Linked DNA regions of Homo sapiens. The protein of the gene in region 1 interacts with the protein of each later gene in a pairwise test. Each region holds a gene or a part of one and is shown on either strand. Other genes may lie near its edges. The genes, in order: ASB3, KIF1B, ENKD1 and KLF11.

Region 1 (7,024 bases):
AAAGCAGCTCCAAGCATTCTTTCTTCTGTTACAGGCATTTTAAGAGAAGCATGAGGAATGCCCAGAAGTCGAAGAAATATCCCTCTTAGAAGAGCTCACTGGCATCTATCCCCTCATACCTCCTTCCAGTCACCTCTTATCTTTTCCCAGGACTCTGTGCTTAAATTCAATCTCATTATTAGCAGCCACCAACTCCTTCACCCCAATTCAGCCATCACAGTCAAAACACAGATACCCTTCTCCAAACACTGGGATCTCAACTGAAGGAAATTAAAGGTAGTATATTCACTCAAAAAGGGTAAGCCCGACTATGGTAGAATTTCTTACCAAGAATTGCACAGTAGAATCAGTGGGTCAAATCCAGCAACCAGAAGATGTGGCAACCACTCCTTATATTTTGCTTGTGCTTTAATTGCATGATTTACAAATTCATATATATGGTTCCATGGTCCCAATGAGCAACCTTTCCTCAAAAAGTAGCGAAATATCGAAAACTTCTCGTACTTCAGGCAGTATGCCAAATGAAGTTCATTTATCTGGGCTCCATATTTCAAAAGAATGTTCACAATTCCAAAGAACTCACAGCTCCACCATAAAAAATAAAAACAAAAAAAGAAGAAGTTAGACTTTGACATAAGATACTTCTTACAAACAGTTAATAGTAGTTACAGCTGGGGAATAAGTATGGCAGATTAAATAGTGGATGGTTTCTACACATCTAGTGGATTGAGATTAGAGAATGTGGTGGGGCTTTTGCTTTTTACACCCTCCTGCATGGTTTTTAATTTTCAACTGTGAACAGGTATTATTATAATTTAAAACATTCATCTTAAATGTCATTTTAAAAAAAATTATCATTGACAGAAAACTCAAATTGTGATATTTTGTACAAATGAGTATCTTTACTACAAAATACTTTGCTTAACAAAATCAATAAACAACGTGATCAATCCTTAAAACTAAATGATTCTAGGAATCTCTAAGATATCATTTTCCTTAGCAATAACCTTAGCCAATTTCCCTCCCACTTTAAACTTATTTATTTTTCTAGATACAGGGTCTTGCTCTGTGGCCCAGGCTGACGTGCAGTGGCACAATCAAGGCTCACTGTAACTGAACTCCTGGGCTCCAGTGATCCGCCCACTTCAGCCTCCTGAGTAGGTGGGACTACAGCTACATGCCACCATGCCTGGCTAATTTTTAAATTTTTTTGTAGAGACAGAGTCTCACTATGTTGCCCAGGCTGGTCTCAAACTCCTGGCCTCAATGAATCCTCCCGCTTTGGTCTCCCAAAAGGTATGCCACCGTGACTGGCCTTACATTTATAATGGTATTAAAAAAAATTTAAAAACTTTTTTAATTAACACAAATTTAATTTACAATACTACATCTTAAAATTAATTAACTTCTATTATTATCTCCATTGTAGATGCAAAAACTGAAGCTGAGTCACAGAGCTAGTAATTGGCAGAACTGGGATAATGATATCAAACCAAAATCTAACAGTGAATATGACATAGCAAATTTCTGCAATATCTCTTCTCTATTATGAAAACTGAACACTTCATGATATAGCCAAATTGAAGAATATTTTAGAGCCAGATCTATGTTTTCCAAAGTAGGTTACACAGAACTTTAGTTCCTGAAAATGATCCATATGAAAAATACTCTCCAGTGAAAAAAACTGAGAAACCTCCTTATACAGTATACAGTGAGCCTGAGAAAGATAGGATGAATGTATTTTTAAACAATGTGTTAGTTACATTTCCAAATATATGCTCAATGTTTTTATTCAACTTTCAGATACTTTTCAGAAGAGGTACCTTTAAAATTAACAATGGGTCCAATCATTAATCTGAAAAAAGCAAACAAAAGTATAAAATGCCCAAAATTCTGTAAACACAAGAACAATGGTATATATACTTAAATATAAGTTCTATCCTATGTTTCTGGACTTTTCAAATCTTTGTAGATCCATTCCTCTTTTAGGAATTCACAAAGCACACTACAATAAGAAAAATTCTCAAAAGCCCTCTACAAAAGAAACATATTCAATATTATTTAATCCTGTACTTCCCAAACTTATTTAACAATACAACCCCTTTAATCCCATATAATATCTATTAACAATCTACAGAATTAGTATTCTACCAAAACACACTTTAGAAAATCAGCTCTAAACCTCTTCCAATTATTCACATTGCCTTGTATTAGAAGGGGCAAGAGTAAATCCCAAAAGGCTTATAAAACTGCACAGTGCTACAATATAGACCATTTCCCAAAAAAACTACCATTTGTTTGAAGAATAAAATAAACACAAAATAAACTGGAGAAGCATAGAGTTTTGTCAGCATGCCCTGAGCTTCTGGGAAGGTTATTAAAGAAGGTCTCAAATACATGTGCACACTACAGAAACACAAGCAACTTCAACTTCAGGGCTCTATATGACCTTGATTATTACATGTCACTAAGCACACAATAAATCCTTGAGCATGGATAACCTCTGGTTAAAATATAAATTAGTATGTATTTCTCTTAACACTTCAACAAATTCTCTCTGTAGCCCTAATATCAAATTGAGAAAACTCTTCAAGTACCCGAGATTTAAACAAAAGTCTATCTTGTTTAACATAAATATCAAGAATTAATTGTGACATAGAGGGACTGTACATTATATAAGAAGTGAACAACATCAGATACTGAGAGGAGAGATTTAAAAATTAAAATCCAATGTCTAGACCTTATTTTGGGGGTTTGCACATTTTCTACCACTCCGCTCCTTGAAGTTCAAAACTATGCAGAAAAACAGTGCTCACACATAAAAGAAGCACAGTAAGAGAAAATTCAACATGAAAACAAAATTTACTTTAAACAAATAGAAATGGGCAAATATCTTCAGCATTTTATGTTCAATTAGCAAACAAAATATCCAACCAACTTATTAGGTGAATTATAACAGGCCAAATAGTGAGTTTTACTGAATGGCTTTCGACCATTAGCTGAAAACAAGATGAAGACATTCAGTTTTGTCAGATGTGCCCACACGATATGGTGGCTAGAATGGACACAATTAATTCTATGAAACTAATGTAATAACAATGATTAGTATCAACTAGAAAAACAGACAAAACCAGGTGAGCTAAGCCACAATCTACTTCTGTGGCCATATATAAAAGGCATTCATATTTGCTCAAACAGTCCTAAAACTTCTCAACTTCCCTCTTCCTTTCCCATTCCATTTGGAGGAATCTTTTTCTTATATTTCCTCATTCGAGATGGATTACTCAATTACTCTTGAAAGACTGGCTTCATATCAATATAGCTGCTAACTTTTTAGCTCCAAAGGACAAAAACTGCTTTTGTTGCAGGATCTATACAGTAGTGGAGGAGACACCTTTCCATCATCCCTGGGAGTGGTGAAAGGAGCTAAGTGTCATTCTCACAAAGAATACCTACCAAAAATGTTTCAGAACACTGATACTGAGCTTAAAAGTTGAATTAGCTGAAAAAATAATAAGGAAGAGAAAACTTAAAACCTGGGGCACCTTAGGAGGCCAAGGCAGGAGGATCACTTGACCTCATAAGTTTGAGGCTGCGGTGAGCAATGATTGCACTACTGCACTCCAGCCTGGGCAACAGAGTGAAATTCTATCTCAAAACAACAAGAATAAAGAAAATCCAAAGCTGTTATTTATCATTTTCATCACCTTTTGGTGTTAATTGTACTATTTATAAAAGTAGATAAAAGTTTATTAGAATACAACAGGTCAATAGTGCAAGAAAGTCCACAAATAGTAAATTAATAGATTTCAGAGAAATACTAGAAAATATACAAATGAGAAAAGGGAAGTCTTTTAGCCATTAACACCTGAAGTCGGATAGGTGTTAATTACAACAATCATACCAAATTAACACTATCATAACACATTGTTGCTATAAAAATAAAATTTTTAAACTTATACCATTAAACTTACTATCTATTACCAAATCCCTAAAAATTAGAATATCAAATAATTAATTTTGGAAAATTGAATCTTCTAAGTTACCTGGTACCAGTATTGTGACCAAATTTGAATTCTTATAACTGGTAAAAGTGATATAGGAAATTCGTGTATCACTCATTAAGAAAAGTAAGAAGGGCTAGGCGTGGTGGCTCACACCTGTAATCCCACACCAAAAAGCCAAGGCGGACAGATCACTTGAGGCCAGGAGTTTGAGACCAGCCTGACCAACATGGGAAAACCCATCTCTACTAAAAATACAAAAATTAGCCAGGCGTGGTGGCATATGCCTGTAATCCCAGCTACTCAGGAGGCTGAGGCATGAGAAACGCCACAACCCAGAAGGCAGAGGTTGCAGTGAGTCAAGATCACGCCACTGCACTCCAGCCTGGGCCACAGAGCGAGAGACTGTCTCAAAAAAAAAAAAAAAAAGGGAAAAAATAACATATGATAGCTATTTTAAAATTAAGATTATATTCAATTGTCCTTGCTTTATAATTGGTGACTGTAATTAATTTAATTAATTTTAGTCATGTGATTGTAGGCAATCCAAATTTTAAGATGCTTACTTATCAAAAGAAATAACCAAAAACATATTTTTCAGCTTCAATTTTTTTCCCTCAGACACTGGTTATATGACCCTCTTGACATACCAAAGCAAAACCTACTGGGAAAATGATCATTTTCTTGCTTAATTGGAAAAGCTTCATACAGAAACTCAAAATGAATAAGTCTCATATTACATATACAGTAAATGTATAAGCAACCAGCCAGACATTAGATAATAAAAATGTGGTATTTAGTTTTCTTGGAAATAATGAAAGGTTTTCCTTTACCTATTAGGTAACTGGTCTAAAAAAACAAAGATTCTGCATTTTATCAAGATGATTCCCTGTGCTTCATGTTGTCTTTATTCTATCTGATCACTTATGAAAACTCTCTAATAAAGAACTCAGGTTTTTCTACAACTATATAACTTTCTGCATTTGCCTTTTGAAGCCATTTAATTATCACTCTAGATGAGATAAGTGACTATTATTTCACATTGACCTGTGATCCTACTTTGGTAAAGTTTTTTGAACCTTGATATTTTTGACAAAATTCCCACAATCAAATTCTACGTCTCTTTGACCTTAAAGTTTGCTATGTTCTATTTTATAGAATAAGGTGTTGCCCAATTCTAGAATGAAAAATAAAAAGACTAAGAGAATACACCCTCCTAAAACAGATATTTTGAGGTTTTGACTTTATTTTTAAAGGCTAAAAATATAGCATTTTCCAATGACTACTTACTGAAAATCTACCTAAGAATATATTGGTTCAATTACAAGTCTCACATGAAAGAAAATCGCTCATATGCCCTTTCGATAGCACAAAAACAAATTGTAATTATGCTCACATGGCCACTTCAAAGAGCAAAATTTCTAAGAGATGCAAAAACAAAACACACAAAAAAAACAAAACTAAGTTTGTTAACTCATGTCTGTGACCAAGGACTACTGTACACCATACTGCTTCACCTTTACTTTTCTTTTTCTTCTTTGATCCGGGGAGAGACTAGGTCTCCCTTACATTTGTTTTATAGCATTTTGATTTTTCTGACCATGCCTTTCTGTGAGTTTATCCTGTTTGGGTTTAACAGGCCTCTTAAATCTGTAAATTTATATCTTTATCCAATAATAGGAAGTTTTTGGCAATTATTAATTTACATATTTTTTCTGTGCCCAATCTCCTCTCCTTCTGGATTTTAATGACATGAATGTTAGACCTGTTGATACTGTCCCTTCGTTCCCTGACGCTCTTGTTTTTTTCTTCCATCTTTTTTCTCTTTTGTACTTCTGTGTGGATAATTTCTTTAAATTTGTTTTTAACCTTTAAATTTGTTAAACATTTGTAAATATTTGTAAATTACAAAAGCTAGTTGCCCAGAGAGGGACAGTATGAAAATATGAGTAGATGTTCCAAACAGGCAATATCCTAGAATGCAAGTACAAGGCACACATCCGGGCAAGGTGATCTGTACATATATTGACATTGAGACCAAAGACTCTCTCACCCAAAAAACTAGGGTTTTTTTAAGACAATAATTACAAATTACAAAGCATTTTCACAACTGTTAGCTCATTTGATCCTCAAAATAATTTTCTAAAGCAAGCTTAGGTGTTATTACTATCCCTATTTTAAAGATAATGGAATGAGATTTAGCAGAATGAAGTGAAATACCCAAAGTCACACAGCCATTATACATCTGTGACTCATCCAAGCCCAAGAATCATGCTCCATCCTTATCCCTCCACAAGGCATTGAGGAAGACTAACATATAATAAATATGCTAATCTGATATAATTATTGATTCATTAATTCACAAATATATTTTTAATGCCTAATAGGAGTTAGATCAAGGGCAAATCCTTGCTCTCAAGGAGCTTACATTCTAATGAAGAAGCAGGTATGTAAACAGACAAAATATTATGTCTTTAAAAAGGAGTCAAAAGGCAGCTTCTTTTTTTTTTTGTTTTTTGAATCTGCTATGTTGCCCAGGATGGAGTGGAGTGCAGTGGCGTGATCTTGGCTCACTGCAAGCTCTGCCTCCCCGGTTCACGCCATTCTACCGCTTCAGCCTCCTGAGTAGTTGGGACTATAGGCACGTGCCGCCACGCCTGACTAATTTTTTGTATTTTTAGGAGAGACGGGGTTTCAGCATGTTAGCCAGGATGGTCTCAATCTCCTGACCTCGTGATCCGCCCACCTTGCCCTCCCAAGGTGCTGGGATTATAGGCATGAGCCACTGCACCCAGCCAAAACGCAGTTTCTTAATAGGAAGTCTTCCCCCAGCATTCTCAGCCCTGATTCTTATGCCCAATACTAGTTACTAAGAGAAATATACTTCTAGTGTGAAGAAAAGCAATTCATCCATTCTCACAATCTGGTAAACATATCCAACCTCTTTTGCTCAAGTGTTGAGCTAACAAAACAACCTTCCATATTGTCTTTAGGAACACTGGGTTGTCCGTTCCAGAAAG
Region 2 (7,024 bases), on another chromosome or scaffold:
ATCTGTACTGTAGTCTGATGCAAGTTGAGTCTGGGGTGAGAGGGCCAGCCTGGGTTTCTCCAGTTGGGTCTCATAATGCATCTGCACCCTGGCGCAGCATGTTGCCATGGCACGGTTTCGCTTTTGCCGTATTACTTTGGCAGATAAGATTCTAGGCCAAATAGGTCATTTGCCTGTTTCATCGAATCTAAGGACTTGGCCTAAGTGTGGCGTATTTTGATGGTCCTCAGCACGATTATTTTCTTTTTGTGAGAAACTAACTTTTGTCATATTGTCGTTTTTAGCTCAGTGGTCTCTAAGAAAGGATACCTTCATTTCAAGGAGCCTCTTTACAGTAACTGGGCTAAACATTTTGTTGTCGTCCGTCGGCCTTATGTCTTCATCTATAACAGTGACAAAGACCCTGTGGAGCGTGGAATCATTAACCTGTCCACAGCACAGGTGGAGTACAGTGAGGACCAGCAGGCCATGGTGAAGGTCCGTCCTGCCCTGCCTTGGTTTCTTATTGCCACGTGTGCCCTTCTCTTTTGATTTCTGCACTCTCTGTTACGTGGTGTGAAATTTCCCTATTCTCTCTGGTTTTGAACTTCCTTTGTGAAGTGCTATATGCCTTGGGAATATGGCAAGGCAGTCCCCATTGCTGTCTCTGTAGTAACTTTCTTGTCTACCTGCATTTTTCTTTCAGACACCAAACACCTTTGCTGTCTGCACAAAGCACCGTGGGGTCCTTTTGCAGGCCCTCAATGACAAAGACATGAACGACTGGTTGTATGCCTTCAACCCACTTCTAGCTGGCACAATACGGTAAGAAGTTTTGTTGTTGTTGTTGTTGTTTTTGAGACGGAGTCTCACTTTTTCTCCCTGAAGTGCAGTGGCTTGGTCTTGGCTCACTGCAACCTCCGCCCCCTGGTTCAAGCGATTCTCCTGACTCAGCCTCCCCAGTAGCTGAGACTACAGGCACGTGCCACCATTGCCTGGCTAATTTTCGTATTTTTTGTAGAGACGGGGTTTTACCACAATGGCCAGGCTGGTCTCAAACTCCTGACCTCAAGTAATCCACCCACCTCAGCCTCCCAAAGTGCTGGGATTACAGGCCTGAGCCACTGCACCCAGCCTAGAAGTTGTTCTGTGTTTTCTTTCTCTCTTTGGCTTTTGGCTTCAGGAATATCAGGATAAATAGGAAAGGAAGAATTTTTCTTTTCTTTTTTCTTTTCTTGTTTTTTTTTTTTTTTTTTTTTTTTGAGATGGAGTTTTTGCTCTTGTGTGGCCCAGGCTGGAGTGCAGTGGCATGATATCGGCTCACCGCAACCTCCACCTCCCAGGTTCAAGCCATTCTCCTGCCTCAGTCTCCTGAGTAGCTAGGATTACAGGTGCCCGCCACCACACCCAGCTAATTTTTTTTTTTGTATTTTTAGTAGAGATGGGGTTTCACCATGTTGGCCAGGCTGGTCTTGAACTCCTGACCTCAGGTGATCCACCCTCCTCGGCCTCCCAAAGTGCTGGGATTACAAGCGTGAGCCACCACATCTGGCTTGAAAGGAAGTATTTTTCAAAATAAATTTAAAAGAGAGGAAGGACAGGAGTGTAAATTGGTTGTGGGGTGGTAATGAGGCCTCTGCATCTTGTAAGGCATTGTCATGTTCTGAACCACCAGGGATACTCTGGTCACACATGTGCACCAATTATTTTCCTTCTTTGTCTTTTTGTTCTCAAGAGTTCTAAAGATGGGGCTCAGGGGAGAGAGTAAAGGGAGGACAGTGAGAACCTTAATGGTCTCCCAACCTCCAGCCCTGTGATTCAGCCTCACGTTCTGAGGGCTTGTGTCACAGGGTCCCGGAGTAGACGGCTTAGAGGACTAGGCCTGCGGTGCCAAATAGGAAGATGCTCCAGGAGGGAGCCTCAGAGGGAGAGGACTGTGAGGGGACAAGACTTGTACCCAGACTTCTAATCCTACCTCCCCGTTTGTCCCCCATAGGTCAAAGCTTTCCCGCAGATGCCCGAGCCAGTCGAAATACTAAGTGACTCTGCCGAGTGCCCTCACTCGCCTTCGAGAGATAAAGAAAGCGTTACCTCTCATTTCTCTTTGTGATTCTTGACGGTGACTCTTGTATGTAATCCTGTGGCTTAACTACTTCTCCCTCCTTGTCCAGCACTTTTCTAGCTCTCCCGTTCCCCATCTCCATTGCTCTGTACTCTTTTCTTTTTTCTTGTGCTGAGAATCTCGTTAGTAGCATGTGGCCTAACAAAAGGAAAAAATGTTTTTAAACACACACACACACACACACACACACACACACATACACAGACAAAAACACAAAAACTCTGAGGGGATCTGGTGAATCTCCAAATTATTGTGGGTGTACTTTGGCTTCCTTTTGTATGATAGGTCCCCATCATGACCACCTCTGATGTCTGTGCTGCTGTCACCAGGCACCTTTGTTTTTCAAGACAACATACTTTTTTTTTCTTTTCTCTGTTTGTGATATCACTTTAATTTTTCTTGGGTGGCTTAGAGACTAAGGGAGGAGACATCTGGCCTTTTTAGAACCTGAGAGGAAAAAAAGAGTCTTTTTTTCCCCTCTGTCTCTTTTTGCCATGGCTAATCCCTGCATTTCCATTCAGGGAAAAGGTGGTAGTGAGCATAGAACTGCAACAGTTATATTCTGAGTCAAAGTTGGGGCTTTTTACGGCATAATTATGGAATTTTTATTTACTGGTAGAGAGGAGACGAGAGGCTTTTTCAGTGGGCCTGGGACAGTGGCTGCTCTTGACTTTGTGTGAAGGGAAATGCCAAGGATGCTTCTGGTGGACTTCAGGGGACCCCAGGGTTTGGCCGTGGGCCGTGATGGCAGCAGGCGGTGGGATGCTTGTAGCTCCTCACAGCAGGATTCCTGCCCACTGTTTTTTCTCTGTTGGGAGGGAAGCTCTTTTCTAGGAGTGTCTCAGTTCTGCTTTTGGCATTAGTGATGGTGGTGGTACAGTTGGAATTAGTGCCATGTCATACACAAATGTTCCACAAGGCGGGAGTGTTTCACTTTCTGGTGATAAACTTGATGGTCATTGTTATGATTAAGATAATGCCGGGCAGGCCGGGCACAGTGGCTCACGCCTGTAATCCAAGCACTTGGGGAGGCCGAGGCGGGCAGATCACGAGATCAGGAGTTCAAGACCAGCCTGGCCAATATGATGAAACCCCGTCTCTACTAAAAATACAAAATTAGTCGGGTATGGTGGCACATGCCTGTAATTCCAGCTGCTTGGGAGCCTGAGGCAGGAGAACTGCTTGAACCCAGGAGGCAGAGGTTGCAGTGAGCCAAGATCGCGCTATTGCACTCCAGCCTGGGTGACAGAGCAAGACTCTGCCTCAGAAAAAAAAAAAAATAATAATGCTGGGTAGTGACCTTGTGATTGTTACAGCTCCCTTTGATCAAAGAAATATAGCTTTCAGGCATAAACCTGGAAGTCTCCCTCTGAATCCAGCAGTTGTTTTCATTGATGCTTGTCAGGTTGAAGATGCTTTCAGTGATGCTCTCTATACTCATAAATAAGCAAATGTGGCAGGCTTTGCTTTCTGGATCCCAGGATTAAAACTAACCGTGACCACTACTCCAAACAAAACACAATATGCCTAGGGGCACGGATGAACGTCCAGGGAGCCCGGGCCCCAGGCTTTGTTGCGTGTTCCCTGCTCCTCTCCATCTGGTGTGGAAACACTGCCCAGGGAGAAAGGAGGAAGCTCACTGTGGACAGTCTTCTTTCCTTCTGACAGACCAGGTCATCTGGCTTCCGAGATCATCAGAGAAGATAAGTCTGTCTCTTTCAGCTGCCAGTAAGTTTTCCAGGATGAGAGGGGAAAAAGAAAGCCTCCAGTGACTTCAGTTGCTTTGCCAGTTGTCTTGGGATTGTTTTACACCATCCTTTACTTCCCTTGCTCAGACCTCTCTGTTTCACCATTGCTCAGGCATTCAGGAAAGTATCTGCTCACTCCCACTTGGTGAGTCCTCGGCCTTGAGGTTGCTGACTCTCAGGCGTTAGGCAGCTGGATGACTTCCCGCTTCACGCAGCAAAGGCCAGGGGCTTGCGCGCCTCTGCAGAGTTGTTGCTAGGGAGACTTGTGTCATCATCCACAACCTTGTTTCTCACTTCCTGGTTGGGCTCATCTCTGAAGAACAGGTCTCCCAGCTTCGCTCCTTATCACTGCATTGTGAAGAGGAGGAAAAGTGAATCACGGAGAGAGAAAGGAAAGGATAGAATCACAGGCTGCGTCTGCACCTGAAAAGTGACCCGCGGAAACTCTATGGCGGATTTTTTTTTTAACTTTCTTCTTCCTGTTAAAACATAGGTCACTAACTGTGATGTTATTTGTTTTCTAAGTGGTATGTGAGATTTTCTAATGTAGTTAGAAGTTTCATTGTCTGATGGACACAATATGCCCTTCCGGTTCTATTCAAACCAGCAGGATCTGTCGGTGCTTAGAGATGGCTGCCTGGACTGGAATCAAATCTAATTTCAGGGAAATGAAGATGGAATTTGAAGGTCACTTTTAAAATTAAGTCATTGATGCTGCTGTTACAGAGTGTGACAGAGGATCCATGTCTGTGACACAGGACGGTGGGAAGCCTGAGAGAGAGTGAAATTATGTGATACACTGAAATGACTTTTGTTTTTCTTCTAACTCATACAAAACTGGTTTGGAAAGTCTTTGCTTTGGAAGCGTCAGACATTAGAACAGGCCAAACTGGACTGTCTGTTCATAGCGTGCCTGAATAAGAAGGCCTCTTAGGGAGCCAGAGGGAGCAGAGTGGTCGTGTCCTGCGTGCTCTTCACCCTCTGGGGCGCCCCTGCTGCGGCTGGCAGGTGCAGACAGCCTTTGCTGGTCCCCAGCACGTCCAGGGTGGGTGCTCCCTTGCCCGACAGAACCATCCCCACTGTGAGGCTGTGAGAGATTTGTGGCAGGAACTGTTTATGAGGCTCTAGTTGTTGCTGTTGTGGCGGGAAAGTTAAGAAACATAGCCCTTAAGGAAACCACCTTTATGTATTTTCTTAAAGCACGCCTTTAAATAAGCAAAAACTTTAAAAGGCAGGAAAGAGAATTCTTAGGCAAATTCAGAGAAATAAGTGCTAGTTAATACTAATCACCTCCTCCTCTGTCTCTCATCCTCCTTTCTCCCATCAAAGCAAAATATGGCCTCACCACCAGCCCCAAATCAGTGCTCAGACCCTCTCTGTGTCTGTGTGCCCTCCTGGGAGTCAGTCAGCGCTCAGGCCAGGACTGTGCAGGGCCAGCCAGCCCATGCGCTAGTCAGGAGCACAGGCAAGGGGTGCTTGTGGCAGTGGCCGGGCACCTGAGCCCCAGCTCGTTGTTAAACGTGCTGACGGCAAGGGGCAATGGAGTGAGTTTCCCAACTAAGAAACCACTATTATATATTTTTTCCCTTCAGTCACATAGACTTCAGACAACTCTCCTATTTTTTATGGATTTTTCAGCTCATTTCAGATGAAGGAACTAAGTCATTGTGAACTGTCTCTTGAGATCTAAAAACAAGATGACTTTTCCTGGCACATATTCCAAAGCAAAGACTTTGTTGCCTGCTGCTTATTGTCTAATTTACAGGGATATTTAATTTTGTCAGGTCTATGTATATTTATCCAGCTATACTTACTTGCACAGTGGATTGGAGAGAAAGGATTCTCCAGTGTGCACACTCATCGGTACTCTTTCTGCATTTCCCTCGTGCTGTGTCCCGCTCGGGTTCCAATGGACAGTATCAGGGCTTGTTTGACTTAGGTCTTTCAGTTTTCCTTTCGGTTCCCTTTTAAAAATGTGATTGTTAACCTGCCTCTTGAAAGATTCAACCGGGTGTGGTGGCTCACGCCTGTAATCCCAGCACATTGGGAGGCCAAGGCAGGTGGATCACCTGAGGTCAGAAGTTTGAGACCAGCCTGGCCAACATGGTGAAACCCCGTCTCTACTAAAAATACAAAAAGTAGCCAGGCGTGGTGGCGTGTGCCTGTAGTCCCAGCTACTTGGGAGGCTGAGGCAGGAGAATAGCTTGAACCTGGGAGGTGGAGGCTGCAGTGAGTTGAGACTGCACCATTGCACTCCAGCCTGGGTGACAAAGCAGGACTCCGTCTCAAAAAAAAAGAAAAGATTCATGATGCTGCTGCTCCCAGAAGGTTTGCTGGATGTGTTTACATAGGACTCTAACTTGTGTGCACTACAGTTGTTCACCAGGGCCAGTGATTCACCCCAGTGTGTGGCCAGACCATGACTGTGTAGCAGGAATGTTTTAATTTGTGCTTCCTTAGTAAATTGAAATATCAGCTGAGAGATTATTTGCTGCTGTTATTCAAAAGGCCATTTATGAAGTTAGTATTTGAGCCCCATAAGATCTTTAAAAAGCCTCCAATCATTTAAAGGAAGAAATCAGAGTTGCTATAAAATTCAGTAAAAAGCTCATAGCCAAACGGCTGTGCTCAGATGGAAAGTCTGAGCTGAGGTTGGTCTCTTGCCAAACCGTGGCTGTTGTGTGTTGTTCTTCATGTCTTCGAGTTCATTTTTTTTCATTCTGCCTATTCTGGCATCAGCTCACTTGAGGAGTCCCTCAGCCTTCTTGTATTTAAGGCATCGTCTTAGACTTTGTGGCTCTAAAGTACCTGTCTGTTGAGATTTCAAGTCTCTTGTCACCATCCTCACACATGACAACAAAACCCATAATGCATAAGTGGCCTTTTTGAACCAAGACTTTGCAAACTGATCTCTCCCCCGTGAAGGAGTTGAGCACATTAGCAACAATGTACATTAATTTTGGATTTTCATTTTCATGTTTTATTTTGTAAATATTATCTGATGTTTGGAGCTTGAGTATACAGACTGTAAATATAGTTCTTGTATTTGTACTAATTCTGATTCTTTTGCTGTATAGCCTTAGATGTGCAATGCAGACACTATCTAACTGTGTGTGGTAACCTTGCGTCACGGAGCTGTTAGTGAACGAGGTAAAAATAATAAAGGTACAGCCAG
Region 3 (7,276 bases), on another chromosome or scaffold:
ACCTGCAGTGAGCAGGAATGCCTCCGGGGGGCTCTCTTGGCAGCTCGTGCATTGTGACGAATGAAGTCCACCCCCAGGCCTGGCTCCTGCAGGACACAGCAAGCGTGGGTGGGGGCAGACAGCATTATGTTGTGTCCCTGAACACCCCCCCCACACCAGGAGCCCTGCCCAACCACCATCTAGCCCCCATACATCCTCTCACCTTAGCTTCGGGACCTGGTGGGGTTGGCTGGGGACTAGATACATGGGGTGGTGGGAGGCCAGGGCCGCAGCGGGAGTGCGCCCGCAGGAAGTGGGCAGACTCTGTCCCAGAGGCAGGGCCAGGCTCCTGGAGGGCAGGGCACAGCAGAGAGAGCAGGCAGGCTGAGGTCTGGGGCTCAAGCTGCAAGACCCTGGCCATCTTGGCCCTTCTGACCTTTGCATCCATGTCCCTCGGGCCCTCTTCCCTCTTCAAGGGACACTTGTCCTCATCAGCACACAAATGTGTGAGTATGTCAGATTTTTAAGAAAACAACAAACCATCTCTCCTTCCACCTCAGTACTGGCCCAGCTACCACTCTCTTTCCTCCTTCCTAGCCAAGCTTCCTGGCTCTAGCCCTGCAAGGCTCCTAACAGCTGGCCTCCAAGTCCTCAAATCCAGGCGGTCAATTCCTTGGTCTCGTTGTCCTCAACCTGATCGTCAATAACTCCTAGGTCTCACTCCTGAGATCCAGGCCTGAATTTCCATCTGCTTCCTGGACACACTCCCACCCCCTGGGAACCCCACAGATGCTTCAGCTACAACACATTTGTGTGACCTTGCCTTTCCTCTCACTCCTGCTCCTCCTACTGAGTCCCTGAGACAGAGCCCCCCACCATACCCCTGCCCTTCCCACTGTCCTCAGAAATAAGGGCTGAAAAGTGGCTTTTGTGGCCCCTGACGTGGGTCCAGCTGACTTCTTGGCCTAACTTCACGCCCTTCTTTCCTCACAGTGAACTGTACCTAGCATCTCCACTGCTGCGTGCCCTGTGGTCTGTGAGGTTCCATCTTTTGGGAATGTTCTCTTCTGCTGTCCCTTTGACTAATTGCTACTTGCCCTCAGGATCAGCCCCACCATCACTACTTCTGAGAAGCCCCCCAGCCTCGCCCTGCAGCAGAGCCAGGGTCTCTTAGTCCTCTGTTACCTCTGTGACTTCCCTCCCACCCCAGAACTCAGATCAGGGTACAGTTGCCTGTTGGCCAACAAAATGGATAATACTTCTGGCTCCCTGAAGCAGGTACCTGGAGCTGGGCCTTGACCCGGGACTCCACCTTGTCGTACTTGGGTGAGCGCCACAGAGCTTTCAGGGGCCTGGGCTGGCCCTGCTCCCGGCTGCGCTCCTGTTCTCTGAAGCGCTTCTGAATCTCCCTGATCCGCCTCAGGTTCTCCTTCTCATGGTCCTTAGGGTCCTTCCCTGGAGAAAAGATGCCCCCAGGTTCTGCCCTACATGGGGCCCACACAGTCCAACTTCCACTAGTTCACACACAGGCCTGCCCCCTGCCTCCTACAGAAAGAGCTCCCTGACCTCTCCAACTACCTTAGACCCTACACACACTCTCCCTCATCACCGTGTTCCCTTCCTCATGTAGTAAGTATCACAGGATGATTTTCTCCATTATTATTATTATTATTATTATTTGAGACAGGGTCTCACTCTGTCACCCAGGCTGGAGTACAGTGGCATGATCATAGCTCACTGTAGCCTCAACCTCCCCGGCTACCTCAGCCTGCCGAGTAGCTGGGATTACAGACACACTCCACCATGCCAGCCTGATTTTTGTATTTTTTGTAGAGATGGGGTTTCACCATGTTGGCCAGGCTGGTCTTCAACTCCTGGACTCAAGTGATCTGCCCGCCTGGGCCTCCCAAAGTGCTGGGATTCCAGGAGTGAGCCACTGCGCCCAGGTGATTTCCTCCATTATTATAGTGAAGTACACCATTGAAGTACACCATAGATCATCTCATATATGACATTCATCTCTTGATCTTTGTATCCCACCTTGACTCAGTGATGGCTCATGCTTATCTTCAGCCCTGTGTTCTAGCATCTATATGGCCTGGCACACAGTAGGCACTCAACAAACAAATTTAATGGGTAACAAATGCATAAAGCAGAGCTAGGGCTTCGTGGGAACTACCTCATTCAGTTCACCTCCTTCGAGAAGGTAGCATATTTCTCCCCCTTTTATAGTTGGGGAAACTGAGACTCAAGAGATGCAAAGCCTGGGCCCACGTCAGGGTGGAAAGAGCAGCTGCTTTTGATCTCTTTCCACCCCGCACTGCCTCTCTGTCCCTTCTTCCATTCCTGGGACTTACTCTTGAGAGAGGCCCCAGGACCTAGGGAGATCCCCTCGAGTTGCAACAGCACGTCCCCGACGCCGCGCTGGCCGCGCTCCAGGATCTCTCCGGCACCGGGACCGATGCAGGGGCCACGGGGAGCGGTGGTGTCCAGGGCCCGGTCGGAAGTCAGCAAGTCCAGCTTCAGCGCGTTTCCCTCGAGGCGCCCTTGAGCTGTGGGGCGGAGCCGGGCGGAGTCCGGGGCTCAGAGGTGGAGCCAGGGCCGACCCCTGAGCCTCGCACCACCGCCAAGCCCCCGGACTCACCCGAGGTCGGCCGCCTGTAGTTGTCAGGACAGAGCGTCGGGTCTGGGGGGATGGGCCCCGAGATGCGGGACGGGCCCTCGCACATGCCGCCGGCGCCGCCCAGCAACGGTGCCCCGAGGCCTGCAGGGCTGTTTACCTCCCTCCCCGGGCCCCCTTCCCCAACCCCGGGCCCCCTCCCTCGCCCGGCACCCTGACCCTGGCGTGCCCGCCACTCCCGGGCCCCTGCCGGTCCCCGCCTGGGCCCCGGCCTCGCTCGCCACCTCCGCGACCTCTGCTCCCAGCCCACTTCTCGGTCCCGCTCGCGGCCTCTCCCCCGCGGCACTCGGGCAGGGGCTCACTCGAGAGGTTTTGCCGCCAGCCGCTGCCACCCGACGGGACTTGTTGTTGCCGGGCAACCGTGGCTTCCGTCCCCGGGGTCAGGGCCCACTGACCCCGGCGCAAAGCGTCCTGGGGCTTGTAGTTTCGGCCGAGGGTGGGCTCCGCGGTCGCCGGTTTCTCTTCCCAGCTCTGCCCTCGCTTGCTGGCCGGTCTCCGGGGTCAGCGCGGGGCCACCATCCAGCCCCTTGGGGCCCGCCCCAAGCAGCTGTCGAGGACGCACTCAGCCTGCGCAGCCATGGCCTCGGCAGGGGCGGAGAGGCGGCCGGGGGTCCAGGAGGCGACGGTCGTGGGGCAGGGACAGCTCACGGAGGAGCCCGGCAGCGCTCAGACCTCCGAGGTGACCGTCAGGCTGTTTAACCTTCAAACACAGGGCCGCAGCGCTCTGAGAGGTGGAACTGAGCGCCCCGACCCGCTAACTGCCAGGCTGGGCCCTCCAGGCGGGGAGGGGCACAGGCTGGTGTCCTTATTCCCGTTTCGGTGTCTAACGTTAGGTGTTCAGTGACGGATCCCTATGTCCTTTGCCCGGCCATGGTGACCGATGGCCTGTGTGTCATCTCTAGTGTCCAGTGGCGGGAGACCAGTTCCTGGTGCCTGCCCATGAGGCCCGCGGAACCCAGAGTGAAGACCAGCGCCCAGCAGGCGCAGCTTCGGAGTCGGAGCTCCAGGAGGAAGGACCCAAGCTGGGGGAGGAGCGGCCCAAGCCGCATGCCGGGGCGCTAGAGGAGAGAGGCCCCAGGCCCGTGGTCTCCATTGTGAGGCCCCGTCATGGTCCAAAGAGAAAGCCTGTCAAGTGAGGGGGCTCTCGGGGGGAAGGAGCTGCAGCCCCGGGGTTGGGGCACACACCACAGTAGGATTCCTAAATCCTGCACTCCTGCAGGGAGGATTCTCGTCCCCAGCCACTACCATCACTCTCCTCCCGTTCCTCAAGAGCCCCCGTGTAGGGAGCAGCAGGAGAGTGGGAGCTTCAGGGCTTGTAGGGGCCTGGGCTCACTGGCCTCTAAGCCTCTTGGGCCTGGGGTCTCATTGACCAGGAACGGGACAGGCGTCGAGCCCTGGGGCTGTGGGCAGGCTGGGCTATTCCCTGGGCCAGGGAATGGGAGCCAGGGCTGGAGCCTGGCTCAAGTCTCTTGTCCCTGGCTCAGGTCTCTCAGCCTCCCGGGCCTTCGTGCCCATCTTAAGGCTGAAGCTGAGCTGCCACCCAAGCTGCCGCTGCAGGAGGAGGAGCCAGAGGACAGCCAGAGTGAGCCCTCACCATCTGCCAAACAGCACAAAAAAGCCAAGAAGCGCAAGAGCCTGGGGGCTCCCGTGCTCCACGCTGTGGCCAGCATGGTGTCTGCACCCTTAGAGACATTGAGGCTGGAGCGTGAGTGGCAGTCCCTGGACTGTTCCTTCTCCCCCTGCCTGTGGGGCCCGACATGGCACAACCTGGCGCTCTAGCCTCTGCCCTGCCCTGGGTCTTTGCAGGAAAGGCCCAGCGCCTGCGGCCGCTGTACCAGTACGTCAACTATTGCAACCCTGAGCTGAACCAGGCAGGGAAGGGGGACGGGGAGGCTGAGGTGGAGGCAGAGGCAGAGCTGGCCCCGGTTCCCGAGGAGGGAGGTGTGGAGCAACTGCAGGCCTTGCTGCCCTTGGCAGGTGAGCTGGGCCCAGGCCTCGCTTTGCCCTGTCCCAGTCCACTAGTGACCCCCACCCATGCCCTGGCTCCCCTCGGAGAGGAGGCTGGAGAGGAGCCTGGGGGCTTGCCCAGCTTGGGGGTGAGTGACCACAAGGCCGAGGTGGATAAGTCAACCCAGGTGGACATCGACAAGATGCTGAGTGTCTGCACTGCTCCACTTGTCCCCCCGCTCTCTCCTCAGTACAAGTGACTGTCCCGCCCCACTGGTGGCTCCCCTCCTTCCACGCCTGAATTTGGCTTCAGGCTTCCTGTGGGCCTAGGCCCTCTGGTGGCGGGGGCAAATTTGGCACCTGCCCCCACTTGGGACTTTGGTCTTGCTGAAAATAAATATTTTTCTTTTTCAAAGACTTTGTGATTCCCCAGATAGGTTGCCTGAAATGGGTAAGAGGATGGAGGACTCAACAGTGCAGGGTTTGAGGCCTGAATGGTCATCTGCATCACCTGAGACTTTGACAATGACAGATTCCTTTGTGCCACCCCATGCCTCACTGAATCAGGGTGGACCTGGTGCTGTGTGTTTAGGTGAATCTGAGGGTCAGGCAGCTAACTGGGTGATGAAGAGGGAAGTGAGAAGGAGGAACTTGGGGCAGAGAAAAGAAAGGGTCTGTTGGGTCATGGGAAGCAGGTGTTTGGCCCTGCTCTTCTGTCTCCTGGGGAAGGGCCTGCATTTGGTCTCACCTTGAGGGGATCAAAACTTGGGATCCTCCTAGGAGGTAGCACAGAGTTCTTTTGCCTGTCACAACAGTGACAGCTTTGGGATGTTTCCTACTCATTGCCAGACCATAGCTGGACCGGACCTTGTCTGTGGAGTAGCCTCTGGTCACAGGTGACAGGGCATCAGTGATGTTTTCCTGGCAGGCAGGGGTGGACAGGGGCAGTAAGTGCATCTGGGACCCTGAGGCCAAGCCACTGGATGACAGCTGTGTCCAACCGGCAAGGATCTCTGGGAAGAGCCAGCCAGTGTTGGCCATTTTGGAAACTGCACATCCTGGGCCTCCTGTGTGTTCCTTGGACACCACAAACAGACACAGGGAATTTTAAGTTCATGGAAATTTCCCCTTCCTCCAACTGGCTTTTCCTCCTGTATCTCATCTGCACAATTGTTTAAGCTAGAATCTTGGGTGTCACCCCAGACCCCATCCTGTTCTTTGCTCCCTGATTCCTACAAGCTAAGCAGACATTGAGGCCAGTGATCCTACCCTTTCAGGCTGAGAACCTCTCGGACCCCACAGTCAGCACCGTCGCCTGGACCACTGTCATCTCCAGGTGACAGCCTCACTGGTCACCCTGCCTGTCATCCCTTGGCCCACGGATCCATCCAGTGGCCCTGTGACACACACACCTGAGCCCCTGATGGTGTCACTCCCCCTTGGGATTCCCCTCCTCTTGCCCCAGCTACCTTAGAATTCAGTGGCTTCCGGTAATTCCCTGAGCAGTTACACCTTTTCCTCCCTTCACTCTGTGCATGTGGGGCTTTCTCTGCCTAAAATGCCTTTATTCCCACCTCTCCCCCTGGCTAGTGCACGCACACCTTTGAAAACTTGGGATTCTGCTTCCTGGGGAGCCAGACAGCACCCCATGTTGCCCTGCATTGCAGCCCCTGCGCATTGCTATCATGTGGGTTATAACTGTCATCGGGATTAGACCGTGAGCTCCCTAAGGGCACATCTCATTGCATCACATCGACCTAGCCAGAGGGCCCCTTAAAAGGCACCAAGGTGATGAGACTGAAGTGAGGGGTGGAGGAAGCTGCAGAGAGGGACAGGCCAGAATCTGAAATGCTGAGGCCATCCCGAGGCCACAGTCTAATATGTAGGTTCCCTGGAATATGGCCTGGCAAGGTCACTGGAGGGAGTAGGGTGGGCAGGTTCAGGTGGGAAAAGCAGGGTCCCCTTTCTGGCATCATCCCAGCCTGCTCCCTCCTTTGACAGGGTCACTTGGGTGCTCACTGGCCCCATGACAAGCCATGGGGGTCAGGACTTTTTTTTTTCTTTGAGACAGCATCTCGCTCTGTTGCCCAGGCTGGAGTGCAGTGGCACAATCTTGGCTCACTGCAACCTCTGCCTCCCGGACTCAAGGATTACAAATGTGAGCCACCGTGCCCGGCCAAAAATTTTTTTTGTGGAGATAGGGTCTGTGTTGCTCAGCTTGGTCTCAAACTCCTGACCTCAAGCAATCCTCCCTCCTTGACCCCCCAAAGTGCTAGGATTACAGGCATGAGCCAAAACACCCAGCCAAGATAATTGAGCTTAACCTCCTTGCTTTATGTTTGGGATGGCAGAGGCCTGGAGAGAAGTGGCCTTGCATGAGACCACACCCTGGGATCTAGGAATCCCTGTCTTGAGTTGTGCAGGATCTGCCGACCTGGGGGCTCTCTGGCTAAGGCCGGACCCAAGAAGGCCTCTGTATCTTTGTGCGGTCTCCAGGGCTGGAAGCGTGAACGAGGCCAGCACTGATAAGGAAGAGCTGGTCCTGTCTTCTCACAGGTGAGGCAGGAATTAGAAATCGTGGGAGAACTAGTCTGCAATTCCTGAGGCCTATTACCCAATGGACTTGTCTAAGCAGGGTGGGTAGTAGGAGCTGCAGAAAGGACCAAGTCC
Region 4 (7,024 bases), about 44 Mb from region 1:
GGCACTGCCTGCCTTCACATGCATCTCGCCCCAGCTAAGCTGTGCTCTGGTGGAGTTTCATCCAACCAATACAGACATTTCCTTTTTTTCTGAGAAGTTACTCTACCCACAATATAGTACGGATAAGGCCACAGCAAAAGGAGTCAGAACTGACAATTGACAAAGCAGCTGGATTTGAGTGTTTCTTTTTTGGTGTTTTAGGTACAAACAAGAAACTGAATGGCTTGCTTTCAGCAGAGCCATGGCCAAGACTATTACAGACTAGATCCTGCAGCAAGTACTGGTCCCTGGGATCTGCCCAGTGGCTCATGTTACTCTCTGGGGTACATCCTTCATGACACACCATGGACACAGCTCACTAGTTCCAGTCAACCAAAATTTTAGTTCTTTGGTGACAGGAATGATTGCCTAGAATTTCCTTGAAAACGTTATGAAGAAGCTGACGGCAAAATTTATTTTTCCCTTTTAAGAGGTCCTTACTCAACCAGGTCCGATTCCAAAAAGATCTAAAAGGCCAGATAACTTGTGGTTTTTGTAGTGGAATAACATGTCCAGTTTACTAAAAGAAGGGCCATTAGGAAAAACTTTGTTATTAAACACTGAAAAGAAGGCTGCAAAATGATCTAGCTAGAAATTGGTGATTTGAGCACCAACAATATAAATATTTTTCTAAAAACCAGTATAAAAATTAGTACCCTGTCTTATTTCTACAAAACATCAATAGAAAAGGTTGTAAAAATCCAGATTTTGTAAACTTTATTGCCGAAATATTTGTTTGAATGCTGGTGATTCAGATTATCAAATTTTCTACCATTTCTTTAAAAAAAAAACCAAAACAAAAAAACTTCTGAAACTACAAAAGATACTGAACAGGGTCCCAAGTGGAAAAGAAAAGTTAACATACTTTCATCAAAACCAGCTCCCCGATCTTCCCCTAGGCCGCCAAGACCGTTTTTTTTGGGTGAGGCAGTGGGAGAGGAATCCATCAGTTCCATTCCTGGAAAGAGGCTTTTTAAAAATCCCATGAGTGATGTCCTAATGGACCTTTCAGGCAGAGGCTGGCATGCTCACCAGTGGGCTCCCCGGGCTCTCTGCAGAGGCGATTCTGTTCAGCTTGCCAACCTCTGCCTGCCAGCCTGGGATCTTCTTGGTCGTCATGTGGCGCCGGGCATGCTTCGTCAGGTGGTCACTGCGCATGAAACGTCGGTCACACACCGGGCACACAAACTTCTTCTCCCCTGTGTGAGTTCTGCGGTGGCGTGACAGCTCATCCGAACGAGCAAACTTTTTATCACAGCCATCCCAGCTGCAGTTGAAAGGCTTCTCCCCTGTGAGGTGAGAAAATACATATTAAAGAGAAAGGAAACGCTAAGCACCTTATTCAAGGGGTTAATTCATGTCATTTTAAAATCGTGTTCATCAAACTCAGAAGAAAGTGGTATCTTATTACTCTGGAATTGGATGATTTGGGTCAAGAAATCCTCCAAAAGGCATTTATTCCTCCCACACTTAAGATGCAGCTATGTTAGCACCCAAAGATTTCAAGCTAATCTTTCAAAATATATTTAAAAATAAATCAGGCGAAGTACAAGTACAGCGGCTCAAACCTATAATCGCAGCACTTTGGGAGGCTGGAGACGATCAGTTGAGCACAGGAGTTCCAGACTAGCCTGGGCAACAAAGTAAAACCCAATCTTTACCAAAAAACAAAAATAAATTAATTAAAAATGTAGCATCCAGCCAGGCGCAGTGGCTCACGCCTGTAATCCAAGCACTTTGGGAGGCCGAGGCGGGCGGATCACAAAGTCAGAAGACCGAGACCATCCTGGCTAACACGGTGAAACCCCATCTCTACTAAAAATACAAAAAACTAGCCGGGTGTGGTGGCGGGCACCTGTAGTCCCAGCTACTTGGGAGGCTAAGGCAGGAGAATGGTGTGAACCCGGGAGGCAGAGCTTGCAGTGAGCCGAGATTGCACCACTGCACTCCAGCCTGGGCGACACAGGAGACTCCGTCTCAAAAAATTAAAAATAAAAAATGTAGCATCCAGCTGGGCACGGTGGCTCACGCCTGTAATCCCAGCATTTTGGGAGGCCGAGGCGGGCAGACCACCTGAGGTCAGAAGTTCGAGACCAGCCTGACCAACATGGCGAAACTGTCTCTACTAAAAATACAAAAATTAGCTGGGTGTGGTGGTGGGTGCCTGTAATCTCAACTATTCCGGAGACTGAGGCAGGACAATCGCTTGAACCTGGGAGGCGGAGGGTGCAATGAGCGGAGATCGCGCCATTGCATTCCAGCCTGGGTGAGAGTGAGACTGTCCAAAAAAGAAAAAAAAAGTAGCACCGGCCGGGCATGGTGGCTCACACCTGTAATCCCAGCACTTTGGGAGGCTGAGACAGACGGATCATGAGGTCAGGAGATGGAGACCATCCTGACTAACATGGTGAAACCCCGTATCTACTAAAAATACCAAAAAAATTAGCCAGGCATGGTAGCTGGCACCTGTAATCCCAGCTACTCGGGAGGCTGAGGCAGGAGAGGAGAATGGCGTGAACCCGGGAGGCAGAGCTTGCAGTGAGCCGAGATCGCGCCACTGCACTCCAGCCTGGGCGACAGAGCAAGATTCCATCTCAAAAAAAAAAAAAAAAAAAAAAAAAAAGGTAGCATCTATTCACTCTACCTTACTCCAATTTAAATATTTTTCAGGTTGGCAGAAATATATATAAAAAGCAATCTTATCCAAGGTAAACTTGCCCAGTTTCTACTTCTCATGAAAATTCCAAGTTTACAAAATGGCACAAGGGGATTCTTCAGAACTCTTACAGTTATTTATTTTTATTTTTTGAGACGGAGTCTCACTCTGTCACCAGGCTGGAGTGCAGTGGCGTAATCTCGGCTCACTGCAACCTCCGCCTCCCAGGCTCAAGCGATTCTCCTGCCTCAGCCTCCCAAGTAGCTGGGACTACAGGAGCGTGCCACCAAGCCCAACTATTTTTGTATTTTTAGTAGAGACGGGGTTTCACCATGTTGGCCAGGATGGTCTCAATTTCTTGACCTCGTGATCTGCCTGCCTTGGCCTCGGAAAGTGCTGGGAATACAGGTATGAGCCACAGTGCCTGGCCAATTTTTTTTTTTTTTTTTTTTGAGATAAGAGTCTCGCTCTGTCGCCCAGGTTGGAGTGTAATGGCGCAATCTCCATTCACTGCAACCTCCATCTCCCAGGTTCAAGTGATTCTCCTGCCTCAGCCTCCTGAGCAGCTAGGATTATAGGCATGCGCCAGAAGGCCCAGCTAATTTTTGTATTTTTAGTAGAAACGGGGTTTCACCATGTTGGCCAGGCTGGTCTCAAACTCCTGACCTTGTGATCTGCCCACCTTGGCCTCCCAAAGTGCTGGGATGACAGGCGTGAGCCCCTGTACAAGGCCTGTTATTGAATTGGAAGTACTTTAGGAAACATGGAAGCAACTTGTTTCAATCACTGCAGGTCATTCTGTCAGTACTTCTACCAAGGTAAACCAAATAAACGGTAAAACTTCATTCAGTCACCTCCAACATTTGGAAGCTGTGCTCTGGTGTAATGCAAAGTTCCCCTGGAGAGTCCCGGTGAAATGCAGAGCTCACCAAGTCAACAAGCCCATTAAAAGAGGCAGGCAGGTCAATTCCCCTCAGAAACACCCGTTCCCTGACACAGCCCCACGTCCATCTGCCATGCAAACAACCAACCCTCATTTACTGACTAGTGTCAGGCCCTTTTATCAAGCACCAGGAATATATCCAGGTGAGATATACAACTAACTAAAAAACAAAGGGAGACTATAGTAAGACCTACAATAAACCACTAGGGTCAAAGAAGGAAGATAAAGAAACAATCTAATAACTAATCCTAGGAAGGCCCTCAGAGGGTTTCAGTAAGTAGAGATGGGCAGAGGGCCAAGAGGGAAGGGTGGAAATATGGAACCAGACATAGAATGTTGGGGAGACTGTTTCTGAATGGGCAGAGGTGAGTACCTCATGGGCCAAGTTTGGCTTTATCCTCAAAGCAAGCAGCCACTCAGTAGAATGGAGTAGTAGAGTTCCTCTTATAATGTCTGAACACCAGACTGCACTTTATTCTACACGTGGAGGCTACCACGATCAGAGCAACAGAACACAAACTCACAGAACACCTGAGAAATGGTGCCCTCACCTACTGAAGCGATTGTCTATCCAGCAACACTCAGACCACTGCTGCGCAGCAGGGCAGCCACAGGTCCCATGGAGCTATTTAAACTTCAAATACTAAAAAATGTAAAATTCAGTTCCTCAGGCACACTAGCCACACACTTCAAGTGTGAGCAGCCAGTGGCTACCCTAATGGACAGACAACAAACATTTCCACCATTGCAAAAAATTATATTGGACAGAGCTGGTTAGACAACAGAGAGATCATTAGGTCAGCATAGTTTCTTGTGTGACTTACTTTAAATTAAAAACTACTCTCAGAGGTAAGAAAACTATACTCTTTTAAAAAATATTTTAGAATTTGAACTTTTCTATAGTTTGGCCAGACCTTTTCTCACATAAACATAAGTCACACTGGTAAGATACATTTACTAAATGTGAATGAATGCATGTTTTCTTTAAAAAAAAAAAAAAAAAAAAAAGGATGAAACGTCTACTGCAATGTGAACAGAAGGGGGCACTGTAAGTCACTCTAAAAGCTACCAAAAGACACAATCACAGAACTATACTACATTTTATCTTCCAGGGCGAGCGCTCTGTAGGCAAAATCCTGATGGCTGTGCAAACAATCCCACCCTTACAAGGTTGTGCGGGCTTTTCAGAACCAAAGAAAAAGCCACACTTCCACCTTCGCCAGGGGTTCTCATGATCCCCTCCCAGCCAAAGGCGGCTCAAGGTGTGCTTCCTAACCACAGGGTCTGGTGTGCCCAATGCCCCACCTGCCCCAGCGCTTACCTGTGTGAGTGCGAAGATGGGCCTTAAGGTGGGAACTTTTGAAGTAGGTCTTCCGGCAACCTGGGAAGCTGCATACATAGTTCCTCCTTCGGGAAAAGTCTACCTGAGGGACACAGTTTTGGCTAGAGGTGATGAACACTGGAGCAGGGGCAAGGGGCAACAACTTGGTATTCCCGGCAGCCATGACATTGGCTGCACAGGGGGCAGGCGGAGGGAGGGCTCCCTGGGGCAGGACCAACATCACAGCTCCCTGAGGCACAGCAGGTCCCACGAACACAGGTTGAGGCGCTGGAGCAGCCTGAGCTAGGATGGGTCTCACAGTCCCCACAGACAACTGGGGAGGGGGCTTCAAAAAAGCTGGTAACATGCTACTTTGTCCAGTCACAGGGATCATCTGGCAAAGGACAGGGGGAGCAGGGACAGAGACAGAAATCAGAGGGGTGGTTTTCCTGGGCAGGTCATTTTCATAATTCTTTGGTGAGCAAGTCTGAACTGCACCAGGCCACCCTGCCTGCTGGCCTTTGTCAGTGAGCAGCAGGCCACCAGACTTGTGCAAGCAGGGCTGACAGGACACCAAGTTAGTGCTGAGTAAACTGTCCGTGAGGTGTGTGTCCTGCAAAGTTTCAAAGTGTCCCAGAAGCTGCTCTTCTCCTTCTCTGCTGTCAGAAAGCCGGCAATCTGGAGTCTGGATGGTGGGAAAGCAGGCAGCAGGGCTCTCCCCAGTGTGTCGGATCACGCTAGTCCCCTTGGCCCTGCAGGGAGAGCTGGGCACTGGCTCCAAACCCAGCAAGCCCCTCTCCGCGCCCCCGCTCAGAGCTCTGGCCACTACGGCAGAGGACTGGAGAACATCCGTGGCTGTACATGCTTTGGAATCTGTTACTTGGGGAGAAACAGGTGTCCTTGTCGATGGCTCCACGAGATCAGGGCTCTGAGGAGGAGTTATGCACTAAAAAAAAAAGTACCATGTTAAAAGGTTGCTTTAAATTTTAAAAGGGATTTAATTCATCACAATGCTCCCAATACCTTTACACAGAATCATCTAGACACTCAGTTAACCCTGTTTTCAACATCCCAGTGGGTTTCAAGGCTGCATGAGGCACTCTGCTTTCTCAGCTTATTCCCAACGTGTTTACCTCTCCCAAACCTACACAAGAGCCCAGTGCAGGGAACTCTGAGAGGAGCTCCTGGCCGCCAGGCCCACCACTTCTGCAACCCTCCCGACAACCCACAGGCCCTTCCTATCCCTCTCCAAATCTGCTTTCTACACTCTTCTTTCAGAGCAAGCTTCCAGCCCAGGACAATCACAATTTCCACTTCTGTTAGCAACCTACAGTTCTCAGCTTCTCCAAGCTGAGATGCAATTTTTCCAAGTACTTTCACAGATGTAGCAAATTAAAAAAACAAAAAGCAAGAGTGACTTACTGCACCCAACTCACAGAACTCACATTAAGGAGTCGGCTGCCACGGGAGGGCAGAGGTGCCACCCAACGAAGGCAATCTGATGTCAAAGTACATGCTTTCTCCAGCTGCTACCGATATATTCTGACACTAGGCTGGAGAACCTAAGCTCCACCCCGAGATTCCCCTGGGGAAGTAAATTTCACTTTCTCACATTAATCTGTAGGTTTCATCCCACGGACATTAACCACGTAGCTAGCAAGGTATGATCCATCCATAGAAAGAGCACATTTTTCAGAAATGAAAGAAAAGTTTCTTTTTTTGTTCTTTTATTTTTTTTTGAGATGGGGTCTCGCGCTCTGTTGCCCAGGCTGGAGTGCAGTGGCACGATCTCGGCTCACTGCAACCTCCGCCTCCCGGGTTCAAGCGATTCTCCTACCTCAGACTCCTGAATAGCTGGGACTACAGGCGCCCGCCACCACACCCGGATAAATTTTGTACTTTTAGTAGAGATGAGGTTTCACCATGTTGGTCTGGCTGGTCTCGAACTCCTGACCTTGTGATCTGCCTGCCTGGCCCTCCCAAAGTGCTGGGATTACAGGCTTGAGCCACCATGCCTGGCCAAAGGAAGAGTTTCTACTCCTTCAGACCCACACAGAGAGGATAC

The links.
Region 2: the proteins of ASB3 (region 1) and KIF1B interact in binary tests that used the Homo sapiens proteins (3 or more experiments, as listed by UniProt).
Region 3: the proteins of ASB3 (region 1) and ENKD1 interact in binary tests that used the Homo sapiens proteins (3 or more experiments, as listed by UniProt).
Region 4: the proteins of ASB3 (region 1) and KLF11 interact in binary tests that used the Homo sapiens proteins (3 or more experiments, as listed by UniProt).

What each region holds. Positions count from the first base shown.
Region 1 is NC_000002.12:53,699,944-53,706,967, forward strand, and holds part of ASB3 (ankyrin repeat and SOCS box protein 3), read right to left. Parts: intron 586-7,024; coding exon 328-585; intron 1-327. Other genes in the region: GPR75-ASB3 protein, read right to left, coding at 328-585. UniProt on the Homo sapiens protein: Probable substrate-recognition component of a SCF-like ECS (Elongin-Cullin-SOCS-box protein) E3 ubiquitin-protein ligase complex which mediates the ubiquitination and subsequent proteasomal degradation of target proteins. Recognizes TNFRSF1B.
Region 2 is NC_000001.11:10,374,570-10,381,593, forward strand, and holds part of KIF1B (kinesin-like protein KIF1B), read left to right. Parts: intron 1-284; coding exon 285-477; intron 478-685; coding exon 686-804; intron 805-1,975; coding exon 1,976-2,018; 3' UTR 2,019-7,024. UniProt on the Homo sapiens protein: Has a plus-end-directed microtubule motor activity and functions as a motor for transport of vesicles and organelles along microtubules.
Region 3 is NC_000016.10:67,663,735-67,671,010, forward strand, and holds the start of ENKD1 (enkurin domain-containing protein 1), read right to left. Parts: upstream 3,017-7,276; 5' UTR 2,709-3,016; coding exon 2,624-2,708; intron 2,532-2,623; coding exon 2,337-2,531; intron 1,435-2,336; coding exon 1,262-1,434; intron 329-1,261; coding exon 203-328; intron 87-202; coding exon 1-86. Other genes in the region: uncharacterized protein C16orf86, read left to right, coding at 3,767-4,364, 4,439-4,866. UniProt on the Homo sapiens protein: Microtubule-binding protein which regulates microtubule organization and stability. Promotes the stability of astral microtubules and facilitates the proper orientation of the mitotic spindle.
Region 4 is NC_000002.12:10,046,531-10,053,554, reverse strand, and holds part of KLF11 (Krueppel-like factor 11), read right to left. Parts: intron 5,906-7,024; coding exon 4,960-5,905; intron 1,329-4,959; coding exon 1,048-1,328; 3' UTR 1-1,047. UniProt on the Homo sapiens protein: Transcription factor. Activates the epsilon- and gamma-globin gene promoters and, to a much lower degree, the beta-globin gene and represses promoters containing SP1-like binding inhibiting cell growth.